Linked DNA regions of Homo sapiens: all the other regions are linked to region 3. Evidence: fine-mapped expression QTL. A gene starts in region 3. Each other region holds a variant in brackets. All regions are shown on one strand. Distances are from middle to middle. Region 1 overlaps MAU2 (MAU2 sister chromatid cohesion factor). Region 2 overlaps MAU2 (MAU2 sister chromatid cohesion factor). Region 3 holds the start of GATAD2A (GATA zinc finger domain containing 2A).

Region 1 (6,672 bases), 72 kb after region 3:
CCCTCCTTAGCAGGTGGCTACCCACCAAAGCCCTGGGGCTGGGGCATAAGAGGCAGGAAAGTAATCTGAGTGTTAAAAGCCACCGGGCTGGGCACAGTGGTTCCTGTGTATAATTTTGGCACTTTGGGAAGTCGAGGCAGGATTGCTTGAGGCCAGCCTGGGCGAGATCATCTCTAGAACAAATAAAAAAAATTAGCCAGGCATGGTGGTGCATGCCTATAGTCCCAGCTGCTCGGGAGGCTGAGGTGGGAGGATCACTTGAGCTCAGGAGTTTAAGGCTGCGGTGAGCCATGATTGTGCCATGCACTCCAGCCTGGGCGACAGAGTGAGACCCTGTCCTCCCACCCCGACCAAAAAAACAAAAAAAGCCGGAGGGATTCCAACTCCCGGAACCCCAATTTACCAATGTGCTGTCATGTCTTAGCGACACGGAGAGACACTTTGCTTTCAGAAACCTTAATATGTTCTTACCTCTTGACAGTACAATTCAGACAACAGACTTGCTGCTTCAAATTTAACATCTTCGAACTGCGGGATCTAGTGACGTCCAGTTAAGGAAGTACAGACACTGCGAAAAAGGTCGGTTTGAAAGGGCCACAGCTTGGGGCTCCTACCCTGCCAAGGTCTGCAGGGCACACACGTCCCTGCCTGCCCTGAAATTCCAAGTTTTCCTGTTCCCCCAGTGAACCTTGAGCTTGCTGCAGGGCAGGGCTTGGAGCTGGATGCAAGGTACGAAGAGAAGCACAAAGAGGAGCACAGCGCCCAAGGGCAGCAGAGGGCCAGGTGGGGGACACTCCAGGTGCTCTGTGGGCCGAGCCTCAACTCACAGGGCATGTCGGGAGGTGGGATTCAAGCTTTGATACATTCTTTTTATTTAAGTGGAGAATTCCTTAAAGGGAACCATACCAACACGGAAAGGATACTTGCTGTGATATCAACCACTGAAAAAGAAAGAAAACAACGATTAATTCTCAGGCAAACACCTGGCACCTGGTTACTGGCTCGCTCTGGGGCTTCCACAGGTTGTCCTGAGAACAGAGGCTGCCAGGTATCCAGGTAACAAGAAGGCGGCCCGCTTGGCCTGAGAGGGTAGGCTTACTCCCCTCCAATCCAGCCAGGGGAATGGAAGCTATAGAGCCCCAGTGGGTGCCTGGGCAGGAGGGGACATGCCCTTCTGACATCAGAGGAGGGGCTCGCACTTGGAGTCAGACCCCACAGGCCCATGGGTGGGAGCTGCTTCAGAAAGGAACAGAGCTCAGAGGTGACCTGGCCACAGCAAGGCCCCCAGGTGTCACACGGAAGTAGGGCTGGCAGTCAGAGGTCAGGCAGAGAGGAAGGACGTTCAGCAAAGCATAACACGAGAAATCAGTTTCAACTGGAGAATGGGTCTTGGGGGGCAAGGTTAGTCCTTCTGAGCAAGAGGCATTTGAAAGATGCTTGGCTATAAGCAAAGTCAGTCTCTCAGAGGGGAGGGAGGGGGCTCCAGGAAGGGCTGACACAGGCAGAACTGCGGGATGGCACTGAAGATGCACACCAGGAAGGCAGTTCAGACAACAGGCTCCAACTCAGGGACCACTGTGCCCTAAAGTTCCATGTTCCAACAGTTCCCAGGCTAGTCCAGGCCACTGACCACAGCCCATCAGACCACCCAGGGTCCCAAGCACACAAGCCTAACGCTGTCCCCAGCGACTCGCATGTGCCACACACATTCAGAGCAACCTGCACCTGACAAGAGCCTCGGTGGTTGCTGGAAGGTGGATCCGGAGCACAGCAGGAGACCCTAACTCATCGCACTCTGTGGGAGGACTGCATGGGGCAGGGCAGCATGTGTGGCAAGTATGGGAAGTGAGGGGCCAGTTCTCCAGGAAAAGGGGGAGCAGGAGGTGCTCCAGGCACTGAAAAGCCCATAAAAAAGGCAGAGGGCCAGGGAGGTGAGGCTGAAGCCCGATGGTCTCTGCCACTCATGCGGCAACAGCGGCCACTCCTAGCTGAGGGTCAGAATGCCCTGGTGTCACCCCTGGAAGCTGACTCAGTCAGGGGTGGAAAATGAAAGCACCTGCCCAGATGGGAGTTTTCAGACCATCCTGGATGCAGCAGAGAGTATTCACGAAGGGAGTGCGGAGGAGCCAGTGAGGCCTGGAGATCCACGGCTGGGGGCAGCCTTGGGGCTGGAGATCTCTAGGGCAAGGGTGAGCAGCAGCTGGGAATGTCACAGGCACTGGGAAAGCACAGAGCTGCATCGAGAGCAGCTACTGCCAAGACACAGGGGGCCAGGAGGACAGCTGTGGGAGAGAGCCCGAGCCCCTGACACACATGCACCCACACGCAGGAGCCCAGACCACAGGCCCTCTGCCAGCCCAAGCGTCTGCCTCCTGTGGTCCCCTCTTGTGGCACGGACAGGAGGGGCTCGGGGTCCTCAGAGTGGCGGGGCCAGCACCTGCCGTCAGAAGTGTGGCCCCAGAGGTGAGGCTCCTCAGCTAGAGGCTGTGTGTGGGGACAGTGGCAACGTGTGTGATGCAACAGAAGAGCAGAAGTTGGGGGCTTTTTTCCACAGAAGCTGCTGCATCCCACTGAGAAGCCGGGTCTAACACAAGAAGCTCTGGAAGGCCACCAACTGGAAGGGATGCCCAATCACACAGGAGAGAGGGGACTGTGACAGAGGAGCCGTACTAGAGCTGGGCTGAGGTCTCCCTGAACCCTGAGATTTGGTGGTTCTGATTTGGGCACCATGGGGCTGGCAAGGGGGAGCTCTTCAGACACAGTCCAGGGTAGACAGCACTGCCACACACAAGCAGCAGCCCCAGCCTGGGTGAGCAAGGTGCAAACCTGGCACCTGCAGCTAAGCCTGGCACCTGTGACAAAGCTGGCCCCATTTCTGTCACTGCATCCCAGCAGAGGTAAGCAAGGCGACCAGTCAACACGTGAATTCCCCCTCCTCCCTTTGGGCGGAGAAGCTTTCCTTTCCAGTCTGTGGCCATGGGATGCTCTCCCCAGAGCTGACGACAGCCCACACGTGCATGTCTGTGGCGGGTAGACTTCAAAAGGACATGTCCAGTCACTTCATGCCTCAGAATACTACACCCCCTTCTACAAAGCTTTGGCCTATGCCACCGAGCTCAGGCCCATGTGGGTCCAACAATGTCTCCTCATAGCAACAGCTTTTCCTTTTTTTTGAGACACAGTCTCACTGTGTTGTCCAGGCTGGAGTGCAGCAGTACAATCAGAGCTCACTGCAGCCTTGACCTCCTGGGCTGAAGTGATCCTCCCACCTCAGCCTCCTGAGTAGCCGGGACTACTGGTGCGAACCACCACGTCTGGCTAATTTTTTTTATTTTTTGTAGAGATGGGGTCTGGCTACGCCGCCCAGACTGGTCTCGAGTTCCTAGGCTTGAGTGATTCTCCTGTCTTGGGCTTCAAAGGTGCTGGGATTACAGGCGTTGGACATCGTGCTTGGCCAGCAACAGCTTTGTGTCCCTTCTCC[A/G]TTTGGGGCCATGATGTGGCTAACATCAATCTATTCAGCACACAGTTGGACTGGACCTCATTTCTCCTGACCCCATGGACATCTCTTCTTTTTTTTTTTTGAGATGGAGTTTCGCTCTTGTTGCCCAGGCTGGAGTGCAATGGGATAATCTCAGCTCACCGCAACCTCCGCTTCCCAGGTTCAAGTGATTCTCCTGCCTCAGCCTCCCAAGTAGCTGGGATTACAGGCATGCGCCACCATGCCTGGCTAATTTTTGTATTTTCAGTAGAGATGGGGTTTCTCTACGTTGGTCAGGCTGGTCTCAAACTCCTGACCTCAGGTGATCTGCTCGCCTTAGCCTCCCGAAGTGCTGGGATTACAGGCGTGAGCCGCAGCGGCTGGCCAAGACATCTCTTCTTTACAAGCCAGATATGCCTGCTGCTAACGGGCTCGCCTCTCTGCCAGCTCCGTCCGTCCACGGGTGGGCTAGACAGAGAGGATCCCATCTCCCCTGAGGAAGGGGAGGCTCTCAGTGAGCACTGGTGAGCTGGGAAGTAATGTGCCCAAAGGCTCCAAATACAAGCATTCTCTTGTGGAAGGCGTCCACTAGCGTCAGTGGGTGTCAGGAGCGCTGACTGGGAGCCAGAGGATTGGGTTCAAGGTGTGGATCCACTGTGAGTTAGCGATGCTCTAAGGCACTGGAGAAATTACATCCTAGCGCTTTTTAACATCCGTTTCCCATGTAGCTTTATCGCCCACTTCAAATACATACAAACAGAGGACATTAGATAAAGCCCCTCTTTTTGTGACCGGCCTGGGCAACACAGCGAGACCCTGTCTCTCGCTCTAAAAAAAAAAAAAAAAAAAAAAAATCAGCCAGGCATGGTGGTGCATGCTGTAATGCCAGTTACTTGGGAGGCTGACGTGGGAGGATCACTTGAGCCCAGGAGTTTGGGGCTGCAGTGAGCTATGATTGTGCTGTTGCACTCCAGCCTGGGCAACAGGGCAAGACCCTGACTCTTACAAAAAAAAGCCCCATGATGTTTGACTTTAAAGTTGTGGCTGCAATGCCTGCAGCAAGCTGACATCCAGTAGGTGCTCGGGAAACATCTGCTGATCGAACGATGGCTTTATCCACTTGGATAATGAGTAGAGTTCATTAGAGGAAAGTGAGGGCTTCTGTGTAAGTGCAAATGGCCACAGAACGGAGGCGTATGCCTTTCAGACACAAAGCCCTAAATGGCATGGGATTTCTCCCTGTCTTTAAATGCCACTGCTTCTTCACTGGGACATCAGTGACACCTGGATCTCTCTGCATGAGGACACACATTCCTGAAGGGCAGTATGGGCCTGGTGTCAGGGTGAGCCAGTCAATTCCCCAGGGCCATCAATCTGACACCTACTAAATGACTTCACTTTTGTATCTTTGTTAGAGTTTTGTTTTTCTTTTTTTTTTGTAGAGACAGGGAAGGTCTTGCTATGCTGCACAGGCTGGTCTTGAACTCCTGGGCTCAGGTGATCGTCCCATTTCAGCCTTCCAAAGTACTGGGATTGCAGTTGTGAGCCACCTCACCCAGCCCTCTGTATGACTTGTAGCATATATTTGGAAATCAGAAAAATATATCCATCTCACAAATAAAGGATGTAGAATGCCTTACCCAAGGTTGCTACCTCATCTACGTGATTTTTTTTTTTTTGAGACGGAGTTGCACTCTGTCGCCCAGGCTGGAGTGCAGTGGCGCGATCTCAGCTCACTGCAAGCTCCACCTCCCAGGTTCACGCCATTCTCCTGCCTCAGCCTCCTGAGTAGCTGGGACTACAGGCGCCCGCCACCACGCCTGGCTAATTTTTCTTTGTATTTTCAGTAGAAATCGGGTTTCACCATGTTAGCCAGGACGGTCTCGGTCTCCTGACCTTGTTATCTGCCTGCCTCGGCCTCCCAAAGTGCTGGGATTACAGGTGTGAGCCACCGTGCCCGGGTGTTTTTTTTTTTTAACTTTGTAATGCTAAAAAGTAGCTTTTATGTTTCCTTCCTTATGATAGCAAAGCAGCCAAAGTGAGAGGCTGCAGGGAGCAGGGCAAGGAGGTGACTGTCTCCATCAGCAGCCCCTGGGGTCACCTTAGGGTTCTCAGGGAAAGCAAGAGAGGGTTGCAACAGGGCCAACAGGTTTCAAGTGGGGTGGAAGGGTCCAGACCAGCACAGCTCTGGTGCCTGGAGGATTCAGTCCAGGGCTGAGTGTTTCAAGGCTTCTTATTCCTTAAAACCAAAGTAACTTTTAAAAAAAAGGCTTTTTTTGATTGTAGTTTTTAGACATGGTATCCCTCTGCCACCCAGGGGGAGTGCAGTGGTCCTCACTGTAACCTCAAACTCCTGGGCTCAAGAGATCCTCCTGGCTCGGTCTCCCAAGTAGCTGGGACTACAGGTGCATCTCACCAGGTCCTACTAATTTTGTTTTTTGAGATGAATTTTCGCTCTTGCTGCCCAGGCTGGAGTGCAATGGTGTGATCTTGGCTCATGGCACCCTCCGGCTCCCGGGTTCAAGCGATTCTCCTGCCTCAGCCTCCCGAGTAGCTGGGATTACAGGCATGCGCCATCACGCCTGGCTAATTTTGTATTTTCAGTAGAGACGGGGTTTCTCTATGTTGGTCAGGCAGGTCTCGAACTCCTGACCTCAGGTGATGCACCCGCCTTGGCCTCCCAAAGTGCTGGGATTACAGGCGTGAGCCATGGCGCCTGGCAGGCCCAACTAATTGTTTTACTTTTTTGTAGAGATGGGGGTCTCGCTATCTTGCCCAGGCTGGTCTCAAACTCCTGGGCTCAGGAGATACTACCACCTCAGCCTCCCAAAGTGCCGGGATTACAGGCGTGAGCCACCATGCCTGGCCTGTTGTTGTTTTGTTTTTATAAGAGACAGGGTTGGCTGGGAGCAATGGCTCACGCCTGTAATCCTGGCACTTTGGGAGGCCAAGACAGGTGGACTGCTTGAGCTCAGGAGTTTGAGACCAACCTGGGCAACATGGCAAAACCCCATCTCTACAAAATATACAAAAATTAGCTGGGCATGGTGGTGTGTGCCTGTCACATCAGCTACTCTGGAAGCTGAGGCAAAAGAACCACATGAGCCCAGGAGGCAGAAGTGGCAGGGAGCTAAGATTGCGCCACTGCACTCCAGCCTGGGTGACAGAGTGAGACTTTATCTCAAAAAAATAAA
Region 2 (5,923 bases), 48 kb after region 3:
AAAAAAAAAAAAAGATCAACAGTTTGGTCCATCCATATAATGGGATATTATTCACTCATAAAAGGAACAAAGCAATGATCCATGCTACAGTGCAGATGAACCTTGAAAACATAGTGCTGAGAGATCCCAGGCTACAAGAGGTCACAGGGTATGAGATTCCATTGATATAAAATATCCAGAACAGGCAAATTCACAGACAGGAAGCAGATTACTAGTTGCCAGGGGCTTGGGGAGGGAGGAGGAATGAGGAGTGACTGCTGATGGCAATGAATCTCCTTTTGGGGGAATGAAAATGTCCCAGAACTAGATAGAGATGATAACTGTGCAACACTGTGAACGTACTGAATACCACTGAGCAGTCCACTTTACAGATAATACTATTTTATATACATATAAAATAGAGCAAGACTCTGTCTCTGCTAATATCCTCCTGGGTTCAAGTAATCCTCCCGCCTCAGCCTCCTAAGTAACTGGGACTACAGGAACACACCACCATGCCTGGCTATTTTTTTTTTTCGAGGTAGAGTCTCCCTCTCTCGCCCAGGCAGTGGTGTGATCTTGGTTCATTGCAAACTCTGCCTCCGGGTTCAAGCGATTCTCCTGCTTCAGCCTCCCGAGTAGCTGGGATTACAGTTGTGCGCCACCATACCGGCTAATTTTTATATTTTGTATTTGTATTTATTTATTTTTTGAGAGAGAGAGTCTTACTCTGTCACCCAGGCTGGAGCACAGTATCAGGATCTTGGGTCACTGAAACCCTCCACTCCCTGGTGCAAGTGAATCTCCTGCCTCAGCCTCCTGAGTAGCTGGGACTACAAGTGCACGCCACCACACCCGGCTAATTTTTGTATTTTTAGTAGAGACAGGGTTTCACTATGGTGGCCAGGCTGGTCTCAACTCTTGGCCTTAAGTGATCCGCCCACCTCGGCTTCCCAAAGTGCTGGGATTACTGGCTTGAGCCACGGCACCTGGTTGCCTGGCTAATTTTTATACATTTTTTGTAGAGACTAGGTCTCACTATGTAGCCCAGGCTGTTCTTGAACTCCTGGGCTCAAGGGATCCTCCTGCCTCGGCCTCCCAAAGTACTGGGATTACAGGCGTAAGCCAGCACAACCTGCAAAAAAAGTTAAATTTGTTATGGTAATTTCACCTCCAAACAAAAAAATCTGGGCAAATAACTCCCCTCACTCCCAGGTGTATGGAGGCTGGTCCCCTCTAAGAATGCAGGGACCGGCTGGGCGCGGTGGCTCAGGCCTGTAATCCCAGCACTTTGGGATGCCAAGGCAGGTGGATCACGAGGTCAGGAGTTCAAGACCAGCCTGGCCAACACAGTGAAATGCTGTTCCTACTAAAAATACAAAAAATTAGCTGGGCTTGGTGGCGGGCACCTGTAATCCCAGCTACTTGGGAGGCTGAGGCAGGAGTATCGCTTGAACCTGGGAGGTGGAGGTTGCAGTGAGCAGAGATCGCGCCTCTGCACTCCAGCCTGGGCGACAGTGCAAGACTCCATCTCAAACAACAACAACAACAAAAAAAAACACAGGGACCAGGACACCTGGGTGCATGAGGGAGTCTGCCCCTGAGAGGGCTGGGAAGGGAGGATTCCAGGAGCAGGCTGCTGAAGGCCTCATATGCTGATGGAGCATGGGGTTCCTTCCTCTCTAGGCGAGGCCAGACCAGAGGAAAATGATCAGTGGAGGAGATGGGGACTCAGGCTTCCATTCACGTCATCTGGCTCAGGATTTGGGGACTGCATCCTCATGCTGAAGACCCCGCCACAGAGGGGGCCCCTGTGGGCATGGCAGCAAGGGTGGCAGCCGTCTTTGGGATGGCTCACAAAGCGGACAGAGGAAACAACAAAGACACAGCACGTGGCTCCTGTAAGTCATTTTACTTTGAATATATAGGAAACAAAATCCACAAACAGGAAGCTATGTTCTATGGTTATGTCTTTTAAACAATGTTCTGTATTTACAAATTGTTTTTTTCCCTAAGTAAAAGCACCAGCTGAAAAGTTATAGGCTGCTAAAACCGTTACAAATATTACAAACCCATTAAAAGACATTATGCCAAACGTACTTATTAAAAACCTTAACAAAACGAAGAGACAACTGACAACGCAACCAACCAATTGAGCCACCATGCTGGGCTGGGTGGCAGTTCCAATTTCCTTGCCTGTGTTTCTGATAAACGGGGCTGGGAGTGCTTATCCCAGGGAGAGGATCCTCGCCCACCGGCAGGTGACTACAGGGACAGAGCTGGGGAGAGGCAGCTGTGTCTCAAGGAAACATGGCAGCCTCACTTCCTGCTGTAGGTGGCCTCCTGGTCAGACCCCCTCAACCCACAGGACAAGGGCAGAGGCATACAGGAGGGTCTGGCCAGCTTTCGGCTGTTCATCTGTCAACAGAATGCCTTTCTGCGACCTTGTCCTCATCCACTGAAGGGTTTGGAGTTTTTGTTTTTTCCTAGACACTTAGCTACAGGACACTGTGTGATGTGTCCTCAGGGACTTGCTGTCTGCCTTCCATTGTTTTTTTTTTTTTTTTTGAGACAAAGTCTCACCGTCACCCAGGCTGGAGTGCAGTGTCGCGATCATGCTCACTGCAGCCTCAATCTCCTGGGCTCAAGTGATCCTCCTGCCTCAGCCTCCCAGTTAGCTGGGACTACAGGCATGCGCCACCGTGTCTGGCCTCTATTCTTGCAATTGAATGAGATGCTATGAGGCGCTGAGCGACCCACAGGAAAGTACTTATCAAAAGCTTTGTGTCATGAGAAGATGCGGCTGTGGAAGGAGGTTCAAAGCTTGCACACACGCACACACACACATGCACATGATTTGGCTTCCATAAAGCTCGAGTAGAATATTAAATATTGAGTACTGAGTTTTTAATTGTAAACTTAAGATCTCATCCTTAACTTTACATATACATAGATAACAGGGTGGTCATGAAAAGCACTTTAACATCAGGACAGATGTTAAGTTCTGAGGTTCTGTTTTCAACTGCTCTACATACAAAATGCCCTACAAGCAAAGAAAGGCTTAAATAAATAGATGGGGATGAACATGATGCACGCCGTGGTGACATGAGTGGTGTGCAGGGGTCGGACAGTGCGGAACCCGGGTGGGCAGGAGCACATTGTGGAGACACAAGTGGTGGCATCTCTGGGATGTAGGGGAGGATGTGGGGGGCTCCTTCAAGGTGGAGCTAGCAGAGGCCATGGCTCGGGAGGAAGACAGGACAGGGACAGTTTGTGGGCCAGTGCCACACGCTCTCCTATTGGCTTCATGGGCCTGGGGGCAGCCCTGGGTAGCAAAGGACAGGGCCAGGCTCTCCCCCTGGAGACCCAGAGATGGCGGTGGTCCTCTTAGGACAAACCCTCACCAGCCCCGCCCTCTGACCAGCCTGTCACTGGTGCTGATGTCAGGTGGTGGCCAGTGAGGAAGGGGGTTATTGACAGCCCTGCCTGTGGCTAAGGCACACCCAGCCTGGGAGCCCCAAGCAGCTGACCTGAGCAATCCAGCGTCCCTTTAGTCACAGACGCCAAAGCTCCCAGAGGCAGTTCCACTGAGTGAGGGTGACAAGACCTAAAACCACCACCTACCCTGCTGAGCAGGACCCCCACCCCCTGTAGCAGGGAGAGGCTCCTGGGCCCCAGAAGCTGGAGGGGGTGGTGTCTTGAGCCCTGACACCTGCTGCTGCTATCTTGACCCGACCACCCGCCCCAACTCGGAATGCCACACTGTGACCACTGGGGCACCTCCTGATTATCCAAGAAAAGTGGATAAAACCAAACGCTGCTGTCTGGGCCCAGCGGAGGCTCCCTGGGGCCTGGCTAGGGTGCGGGTTTCACACTGTGCCCCAGAGACCCAGCAGGGAAGGTGAGGCGGT[G/A]GAGGGAGTGGGGGGACCAAGAGGCTGAGCAGGGAAGGCCACAGATCTGCCAGGAAGAAAGTCCCTGGGCTCCAGATCTCGGGGGCGGGGGGCCCGTGCCACGCACTCTAAGCTAGCTGAGGAGGTGATCTTAAATTTAGGAGACGAGCCCACTCCCCCGCTTCCTGCCCCTCAGCAGCCACAAGATGGGGGAAGGTGGCTGGTGCAACAGGAGCCTCAGCTCCCAGCTCCATCTCCACAGATCTTCACCGCACACCCGTGTGCATCCACATGCACACCCGTGTTTACAATCACCTGCACCCCCACGGCGGGATGGCGAGTCCGGTCAAGGTGCAGATGTTTGGAAGCTGAGTTCCTGGGTCCCTGAGGGTTCCTGACCAGAGGCCCCAGCTGCTGCAGGGACTGATGCTGGAGAGAAAGCTGGGAAAAGTGCTGGGATCTGTGCTTCGTCCCACACTAGCGCCATTACTTCTTCCCTCCAAATTCAGGCCAGAAACTGGCATCCGGGCTCTGGAAATTGCCTTGAGCAGAGGAAACACTCTACTCCCGCTCGGCATCAAGGCCTGGGTGATGGAGAGTCAGGCGTGGTGCCCCTGGGGCACTGCCTGCCCTGGCACACAGGATTAGGACCTGCTGGAGGCCTGCACCCTACTCCTGGCCGACGTGACCCAGATGCTGAGGCAGGACTGGCACTGAGGTCCACTCTGAAGGATGGCTCTGGAGAGACAGCGCCTGTGTGCCACCTGTGAGCCTCTGCACTGGGGGTCCTGCTGCGAGGTGGGAACGGCTACCACCCCTCCTGGGAGGGCAGGGACTGGCCCCGCACATTCCCAGGACTTGGAAGCTCTAGAGACAATCAGGAAGGAAGCACGCCTCGGGGGCAGGCTTGAGTGCCGTCTGGGTGGAAGCCGGAGACGCGCAGGCCCTGCGGAGCTGGATGGCCCCATCAAGGCCTCACAGGAGGCTGGCCAGGCTGGTGTTGGGTCCATTCTGAGCTTGGAACTGCACGGGGGGTGGACCGTCTGTCCACTGTGGGGAGGAGAGGACATGCGAGTGAGGCACTGTGGACCGTTCCCAGGGAAGAAGAGGTTGGAATGCTGCCTTCCTTGGGCTGCTCACACAGCCGGGACTCTGTTCTCCATGCCCCAGTCCAATGGGCCCCGAGGAGACACCTGGGTCCCTTGCTTGGGTGGGGGTGCCCATGGCCATCTCCCCCATCAAGGGATCACCTGAGGCTGAGTTAGGGTTTGTTGGACAAAAGAGAAATACAGCCAAGGTGCCCCTTCCTCTTGCAGGTGGGGAGCCCGCTAGTCCTGATCCCGTCCCCTAACACCCACACCCGTACCGTGATGAGGTTGTGTTCGGGGAGGCTGCAGGCCTCAATGTGGTCCTGGAGCAGCTGCTGCGAGAAGTTCTGGTGCATCTGGGCGGCTTCATGGGCATCCATGGCGTTCCCACAGGCTTTATTCAGGTCTGAGAGTGGGACATGAGCATGGGGGCCCGCCTTGCCCTGTCACTGCCCAGGCCCTCCCACTCGGTGCAGATGGAGCCCTAAGGTCAAGTCCCAGCTGCACTGGTGGATCTCTGGGTGCCTGGCACGTCACTGGACCTGAGCCCTGTCTTGGGATCACAAAGCCCATGCGCCAGCCGCCCTCATAGGGCAGAACAGGGCTGGCTGGGCAGTGAAAGCCCAATGCCAGGCTTCTCGCCAGCCCTCCAGGGAGCCCATGGCCAGCCCTCAGGCAAACAGGCGCTCATTGGGGCAGGACGCCCAATGCCCATCCTGAGGCAGCAGCCCCAGGCAGCCCACTGCACATGGAGCACCCCGTCTCCTGTCACCTCCCCAGGGCCCCAGGCGAGTCTCCGGACCTTAGTTTCGTAATCTGGAAATGGGGGAGCTGCGGTAACAGCAATGATACCCGCTGAGTGCCCGCCCTGCTCCCAGAGCTAGCTGGCCAGCCCTACCCAATAGGTATGGCTGCTGTCTGCCTTTCCGGGAAGAAGCAAGGCTGAGAGCGCCACGGCTAACAGCC
Region 3 (6,676 bases):
CTGCTGGTCATTCTTAATTTTCTTCCAAGAGAACAAACACCAAAAAAAAAAAAAAAAAAAGCCAACATTTCAAGAATGGCTTTACAACTTTACCAGCCACATTCTTCAGAGGCATCCTTTAGTCATCTGCTAAGACCCAAAGAGGTCCCGGCTGTGAGCCTCACTGCACCAGCCCTTGCCTTAATCCCCTTCAAGAGGGTCCCCCTTCTTGTTCTCTGACCCCAGTAGGAGAAAGGTCCTTTCGGGCTCACCAGGTCACAGTGTCCTTCTCTCCTTGATCCCTGTAAGTTTCCCCATGTTTATAAGATTAATTACGACTCCTGGCCCACTAATCTCACTATAAACTCTACTGAGGAGGGATTCCTCGCAGTGTCGAAGGCACAGTATGCACTCTGATATTTGTTGAATATATCAATCTAGAAATCACTACCTGCAATGCCAGAAATTCAGAAAATAAATGATGCAAAACAAGTCAGAGGAGCTACTGAAGAGTTGAAAATTAGAGTATTTAAAACATGTTTCCTCATTAAAAACATACACACACACGCAAAATACAGAGACACTAAAAAGTTTTCTAAAAAAGAAAAACTATTGCTAATCCTAATGTAGAGACCTTTATTGACATTCTGGTACAAATCCTTCCAGGATTTTTTCCTACCGAAAGTAGCATTATATTTTTCCCTCACTATCAAAATATAAGATTATAGGATTTGCCAAATGATACTGCATTAATAGAGATGACTTGACATTTTAAAAAATGATGTCATCTGAGTGGAAATAACAATGCATCCGCCAGGCGTGGTGGCTCACGCCTGTAATCCCAGCACTTTGGGAGGCTGAGGTGGGCAGATCACGAGGTCAGGAGTTCGAGACCAGCCTGGCCAGCATGGTGAAACCCCGTCTCTACTAAAAATACAAAACTTAGCCGGGCATGGTAGTCCCAACTACTCGGGAGGCTGAGGCAGGAGAATTGCTTGAACCTGAGAGGCGGAAGTTGCAGTGAACCAAGATCGTGCCACTCCAGACTGGATGACAGAGCGAGACTCCGTCTCAAAAAAACAAACAAACAAACAAAACACACTGCATCCAAATCTTTCCATTCTCTATAGCCCTTCCAAGATGAGAAGCAATCTTCATAAAAACCAGCTTCGGAATTTTATGAGACAAATAAGAACTGAAAGATGAAGGAGGGGAGGGAATAAGTGAAGACAGAGGATACAGAAAATCCCTTGCAAATTTCCCACATCCTATAAACTGTTTCCTCTAGAAAAGGGCCAACTTTTCTGAGTCCAAAGCTGAAGAAGCGAATGCAAAGTAGCAACTAACTCTGTAGTTCAGTTCCTTAAAATCCAGCTGGTAACGCTGCTCCACTAGAACAAAGCAGGGCTAGCATGGTGTCCCCATGTCACCAGATTATCCCCTACATCCGCAAACAGAGGTGCCCTGGATCCTGGACAAGAAAATGGCCTTGTATTTTAGAAGCGCCAGGGAAATGCTCACTAGGGTTCGCAAACTGCAGCATTTGTGGGCTCTAGAGCACCAAGTACGGGCTGCCTGGCTCTGCCTCACTACTAAGAGGCCTTGAGCAAGCCGCCTGGCCTCCAGCAGCCCCAATTTCCTGACCTGTAAAGCGCAGATAATACTTCCCTACTCCCCACGGGATTGTTATAGGCACTGAATATGTCTGTGCAGGGGAGCTTAGCACACAGTAGGCACTCAAACCCGAGGGCTAGTATGAGCTATCAGCCCTCCACAGCTTGTGGTCAGGTCTGACAAACTACTGCTTAGCATATGTTAACAAACTGGTGCCAACAAACATTATTTCATGTAATCTAGTTTAAAAGAAAACTTGTAACGACTACCAGAAGAGTTAAGTCAGTCAACAGGACTACAGTCCAAGACTGAGACACCCGCACAGAGGGCTCTCAGTTTCTGTGCTGCCACAGCCAGGAGGTGTCACTGTGTGAATGGGCACACAGAACCAGAGATGTAACCAGCACTATGTACTCCAAGAAAACTGAAAGAAGTAAACTGGTAGGAAGAAAGAAAATTAAAGGCTCAAGTGACTCACTCGGACTTTGATCTAAAGAATCCACAGCTCTTAAGATAAGGATGAACTATACACCTAAAGACGTTAAGTCAGACCTACAAAATTTTGCCCTGTGCAAAATTCTCAGGGCAGAAACACGCACCTAAGGGTTGTCATTCACTTCCTAAGGGAGGGGTCACCATTCATTTCTGGGTCCCAGTGTGCGCACAATCCAAGTGTCCGTCAGGCTCTCAGCCTGGGCCCTGCCCATAAGCCTTTCCTTGTTGAAGTGATCAATTCCGATTCTTGGCAATAATCCCTTTAAAAGGCCAGCTGCTGCTGTCTAGTCACTGATGCCGACCCACTCTAGGTGGGAAAAAAGAAATCAATGGAGCCACCGCCTAGATGGGGAGGCAAATTTAAAGTGTCGGGCCTTGAGAAAGGCCGGAGATCAGAGAGGGGAAAGGGTCCCGCGGCTCCCGGGGGTTAGGCAGGAAGGGCGCGAGCTGGGGGAGGGCCGGCCCTCCAGGCGTGGGCGCGCGGGGACTCTTATTCTGACACGGGATCCGCCGCCGCCGCCGCCGCCGCCGCCGCGGGGTTCAGCGTTGCTGCCCAACCCGCCCCGGACCCCCGCCCCTGAGCGGGACCCCCGCCCCGCGCGCCCACGTGCCGTCTTCCCGCCGCCTCCACCCGTCCCGACCACTCGGAAGAGGCGCCTCGCGGCCCAGCCCTTCCCCCGACCCCGCAGGAAGCGCAGGACGGAAGCGGGGCGACGCCGCGACTTTCCGGGACCCCCGCCCGGCCCCCACGTGCCCGGGCCGCCTCGGGGCAAGGAACTTTCCAGGGCAGCGCAAGAAGACGCTCCCAGAATACAAGGAGTAGAACTCGCTCGCTCTCACTTTTCCACGCTCATGCAGGGGTCCTTCAGAGCCCCCCGAGGCCCCGACCCTGCGCGGCCCGCGCCGCTCCAGTCTCAGCCGTGCGTCCCCAGCCCCCGCCCCCCGCCAAGTTTGGTCCAGAACTTACCGGGCCGCGGGTCGGCCGGGCCCTAGGGCAGCGCGCAGGTTACGGGGGCTGCTGGTCCGGGGTCGCCCGCGGGGCCGGGCGGCGGAGGGGCCGGGGACGCCGGGCCGCGCGCGCTCGTTCCGCCTGTGGGGCCGCCCGGGCCCGCGGCGCTCGCTGCGCCGGTCCGCCCGCCCGCCCGCGCCGCCGGCCAGATAATGCGCCCCTCGGCCGCACACATGGAGCCCGGCGCCGGCGTCACCGCCCGGGACATGCGCACCAGGTCAGCGCGCCCGGCCCGCGGCCCCCAAAACACCGGGGAGCTCTTAAAGGCGACGCCGCCCGCCCGCGCCCGGCTGGGCGGGGCGTGGCGACCGAGGGGCGGGGCCTGACGAGAAGGGAGGAGCTCGTGGGCGGGGTTCCAGGCGTAGAAGGCGGGCCCCTGAGTTGAGGGGGCGGGGCCGGACGGTACCGCCCCGGAAGCACCGCCCCTCTCCGGCGCGCTCCCACGCGACACCTCGTTGGGCGCGCTGGTTTCCCACGCGGGCTCCGGCTGGCTCCCTCCCCGCCGAGTCCCAGCGCCCTCCGCAGGCCGAAGGGTCGTGGCCAACTCACCGGCGGCAAAGCCGGGCGGGCCGCACCCAAGGCTGACTCACGACGCGCTCACTGCTGACCTCGCGCCAGCTGAGCTGGGCGACCTCAAGCAACTCAGGGTTGCCTCTGAAACGCGGGTTAGAATGTCACCCCCGCGGGGTCGTCACGCGGAAGCTCTTCTCTGGGAACTTCGGCCCCGGTGTCTGTGGGGAGGGCGGGGTGTGGATCGGCTGAACGATCACTTCTCCAGTGCAGTGAACAGAATTCTACAAAGAAAGCTCCAGACCCACCCACCTCAAGACACTTGGGGACGACTGCTCTCCCTCTCCAGTTACCTCCCAATCTGCCCTCGTGCCTCAGGGAGAAGGTGAAAACCCCTCAAGAAAGCAAATCTGCACCCCTCCCTCTCCAGTAACAAGGAGGAAACACAGGAGACAGAATGAAAGCCTGAAAGAGAATGGACTTTGGAGATGTTAAACTACATAAAGCGAAATACAATTTCAATAGGGAAAATATCAAGTTCATGGAAAATCTACCACAAGAAGGCTCTCAATACCAAAATCAGGTTCTGAGGAATCCCCAAAACCGCCTCTTTTCATGTTGTTTTAAAACAAACGATTCCTGATGAGACACCTAGACTCCTGAAGAGTGGTGGTGACATGCTTTATCGCATACCCTAATAAATCTATATGTACAACTGAAACAAAAGTTTCACCAAACATAAATTTACCACATGCAACGTACTGTTTTCTTTTTTCTTTTTTTTGGAGACAGAGTCTTGCTCTGTCGCCAGGCTGGAGTGGTGCAGTGGCGCTATCTCGGCTCACTGCAACCTCCACTTCCCAGGTTCACGGATTCCCCTGCCTCAGCCTCCCCAGTAGCTGGGATTACAGGCGCGTTCCATCACACCCGGCAATTTTTTTTTTGTATTTTAGTAGAGACGGGGTTTCACCATCTTGGCCAGGATGGTCTCCATCTCCTGATGTCGTGATCTGTTCGCATCGGCCTCCCAAAATGCTGGGATTACAGGCATAAGCCACTGCACCCAGCCTGTACTGTTATTTCTATTCTACTTCATTTGAAAAGAAAATCAATGTAACGCCCAAGAATAATTGGGTCTCAACCGCAAACCTGAAAAACACTTCATGTAGAACAAATTTTACAAAATTGTTTTTCTAAAAAAAAAAAAAATTGTTTTTCTGCTGTATGTCCCCTTAAACAGAGTTCAAAAAAGCTCCTAATTCTGTGTTGAGTTCTACATACAATTGTCAACTTTTTGTAGTTTATTCCACCCCGCCACCTCACACCTCCCCAAACACACCGCCCTGCCCCCCAAAATCTTCCCACTACTTAATGCAACATCTGGCACAACCTCCCCTAGGCCAAAAGAGAATTCAACCTAAAAATGATACAAAATACAAACTGTTGACTCCCAATCACTTTCCCTGACCCAGTTATGTCACCAATTTGCTTTGCTTTGCTACAAAGAAATTCAAATGTTCAAATTCAGAAACCAAACAAACAAAACAGTCTTATTCTCAAACAGGTGACTCGGTATAGGAATTCAAAGAGCTCCCTGATCCCAAGCGCAAGGTTGGTTTAGGGCAACCATCCAGGTTTTTCACCCTAACATGGTGGCTGTATATTTTAAGAACTGCTTCATGCTACGATCATTAATCAGATGATGTATATTAAAGCAATACAAGCAAACTATTACCTCACTGCTCCTCACCTGGGTCTTGATTAATGTCAATTTAATTAACTACAAACAGAGCAAAGTGTGGTCAGGTGGGAGACCTGACACTTGAGACAGATATACAGATTCCAGAGTTTGAGCCAGCAAGCCCTGTGTGAGTCACCAGGGTGACAACCACCCCTTTTTTTTTTTAAGAGGGAGGCATCAACTGCAACACATTAATGACACACCCCTGTGGAGTGAGGGGTGCACTGGTGACAGGGCCTGCTCCAGAGGGCAGTGCCAACTTCTCAGCCAGGAAAGTCGGACGGGGAGTAGGAGGGGTGCAGGGTATGTAGGTGGGGTGAAATAGCTACAGGGTTTATTTCTGTCTGTCATAGGAAGACAGGGTCAGATGGGTAGATGGTAAGTGACAGTGAATCCAGATCTGCTTGGGGTCCCATAGGCTCAGGTTGGGTGAATGCTGAGGCTGTTTGGATTAAAGATCTTTTAGCCTCAGTGCCCAGTGCTGGACTAAACAGCAAATAGTTCAGCTGGGTGATTATGAAATATGATGCAATCACCTTCAGATGCCATACTAAAGCTGAAGAAACTCTAATTAAGAAACAACTAGGGCTAGAACCATGTTTTCTAAAAGTTTTCTCTCTGATCTGAAAACAAAGACAGTCAATACTTAGTGCTGGCAGGGCACAGTGGCTCACGTCTGTAATCCCAGAACTTTGGGAGGCCGAGGCATGTGGATCACCTGAGGTCAGGAGTTCCAGACCATCGTGGTCAACACAGTGAAACCTCATCTCTACTAAAAATACAAAAATTAGCCAGACATGGTGGTGCACGCCTGTAATCCCAGCTACTTAGAAGACTGAGGCAGGAGAATCGCTGAACCCAAGAGGCGGAGGTTGCAGTGAGCCAAGATCGCGCTATTACGCTACAGCCTGGCCGACAGAGCCAGAATCCATCTCAAAAAAAAAAAAAAATCAAAAAAACAAAAACAAAAAAAAAAAACCCTTAGTGATAGCCGTTGTTAATTAATACTGTACTTTCTTTTTTTCTTTTTTTTTTTAATGAGACAGAGTCTTGCTCTGTCACCAGGCTGGAGTGTAGTGGCGCGATCTCGGATCACTGCAACCTCCACCTCCCAGGCTCAAGAGATTCTCCTGTCTCAGCCTCTTGAGTAGCTGGGACTACAGGCATGCGCCACCATGCCCAGCTAATTGTTTTGTATTTTTAGTAGAGATAAGGTTTCACCATGTTGGCCAGGATGGTCTCAATCTCTTGACCTCATGATCCACCTGCCTCGGCCTCCCAAAGTGCTGGGATTACAGGCGTGAGCCACTGTGCCCGGCCCAATACTG

What was found. PIP is the estimated chance that this variant, and not a neighbour inherited with it, causes the effect. A credible set is the group of variants that fine-mapping cannot tell apart.
Region 1: its variant is the best candidate, but not a certain one, in a credible set for the expression of GATAD2A in whole blood (INTERVAL, PIP 0.86).
Region 2: its variant is the best candidate, but not a certain one, in a credible set for the expression of GATAD2A in esophagus mucosa (GTEx, PIP 0.83).

What each region holds. Positions count from the first base shown.
Region 1 is chr19:19,329,987-19,336,658 of GRCh38, reverse strand. MAU2 (MAU2 sister chromatid cohesion factor) reads right to left here. Exons shown (of 19, transcript NM_015329.4): 2 at 924-941; 3 at 472-537. Among named protein-coding and RNA genes, the nearest start is that of MAU2, 12 kb to the right of the region's middle. RefSeq lists an enhancer at 1-976. The variant A/G (reference allele first, on the strand shown) is at 3,482.
Region 2 is chr19:19,354,704-19,360,626 of GRCh38, reverse strand. It overlaps MAU2 (MAU2 sister chromatid cohesion factor), which reads right to left. Exons shown (of 19, transcript NM_015329.4): 18 at 5,236-5,363; 19 at 1,873-4,919. The coding sequence ends at 4,845. LOC124904656 (a long non-coding RNA gene) reads left to right here. Exons shown (of 2, transcript XR_007067163.1): 2 at 1,666-1,916. Among named protein-coding and RNA genes, the nearest start is that of MAU2, 37 kb to the right of the region's middle. The variant G/A (reference allele first, on the strand shown) is at 3,891.
Region 3 is chr19:19,402,399-19,409,074 of GRCh38, reverse strand. GATAD2A (GATA zinc finger domain containing 2A) reads right to left here and starts at 3,400. Exons shown (of 12, transcript NM_001384528.1): 1 at 3,056-3,400. RefSeq lists silencers at 2,529-2,608, 3,169-3,718 and enhancers at 2,429-3,335, 3,839-3,898, 3,336-4,244.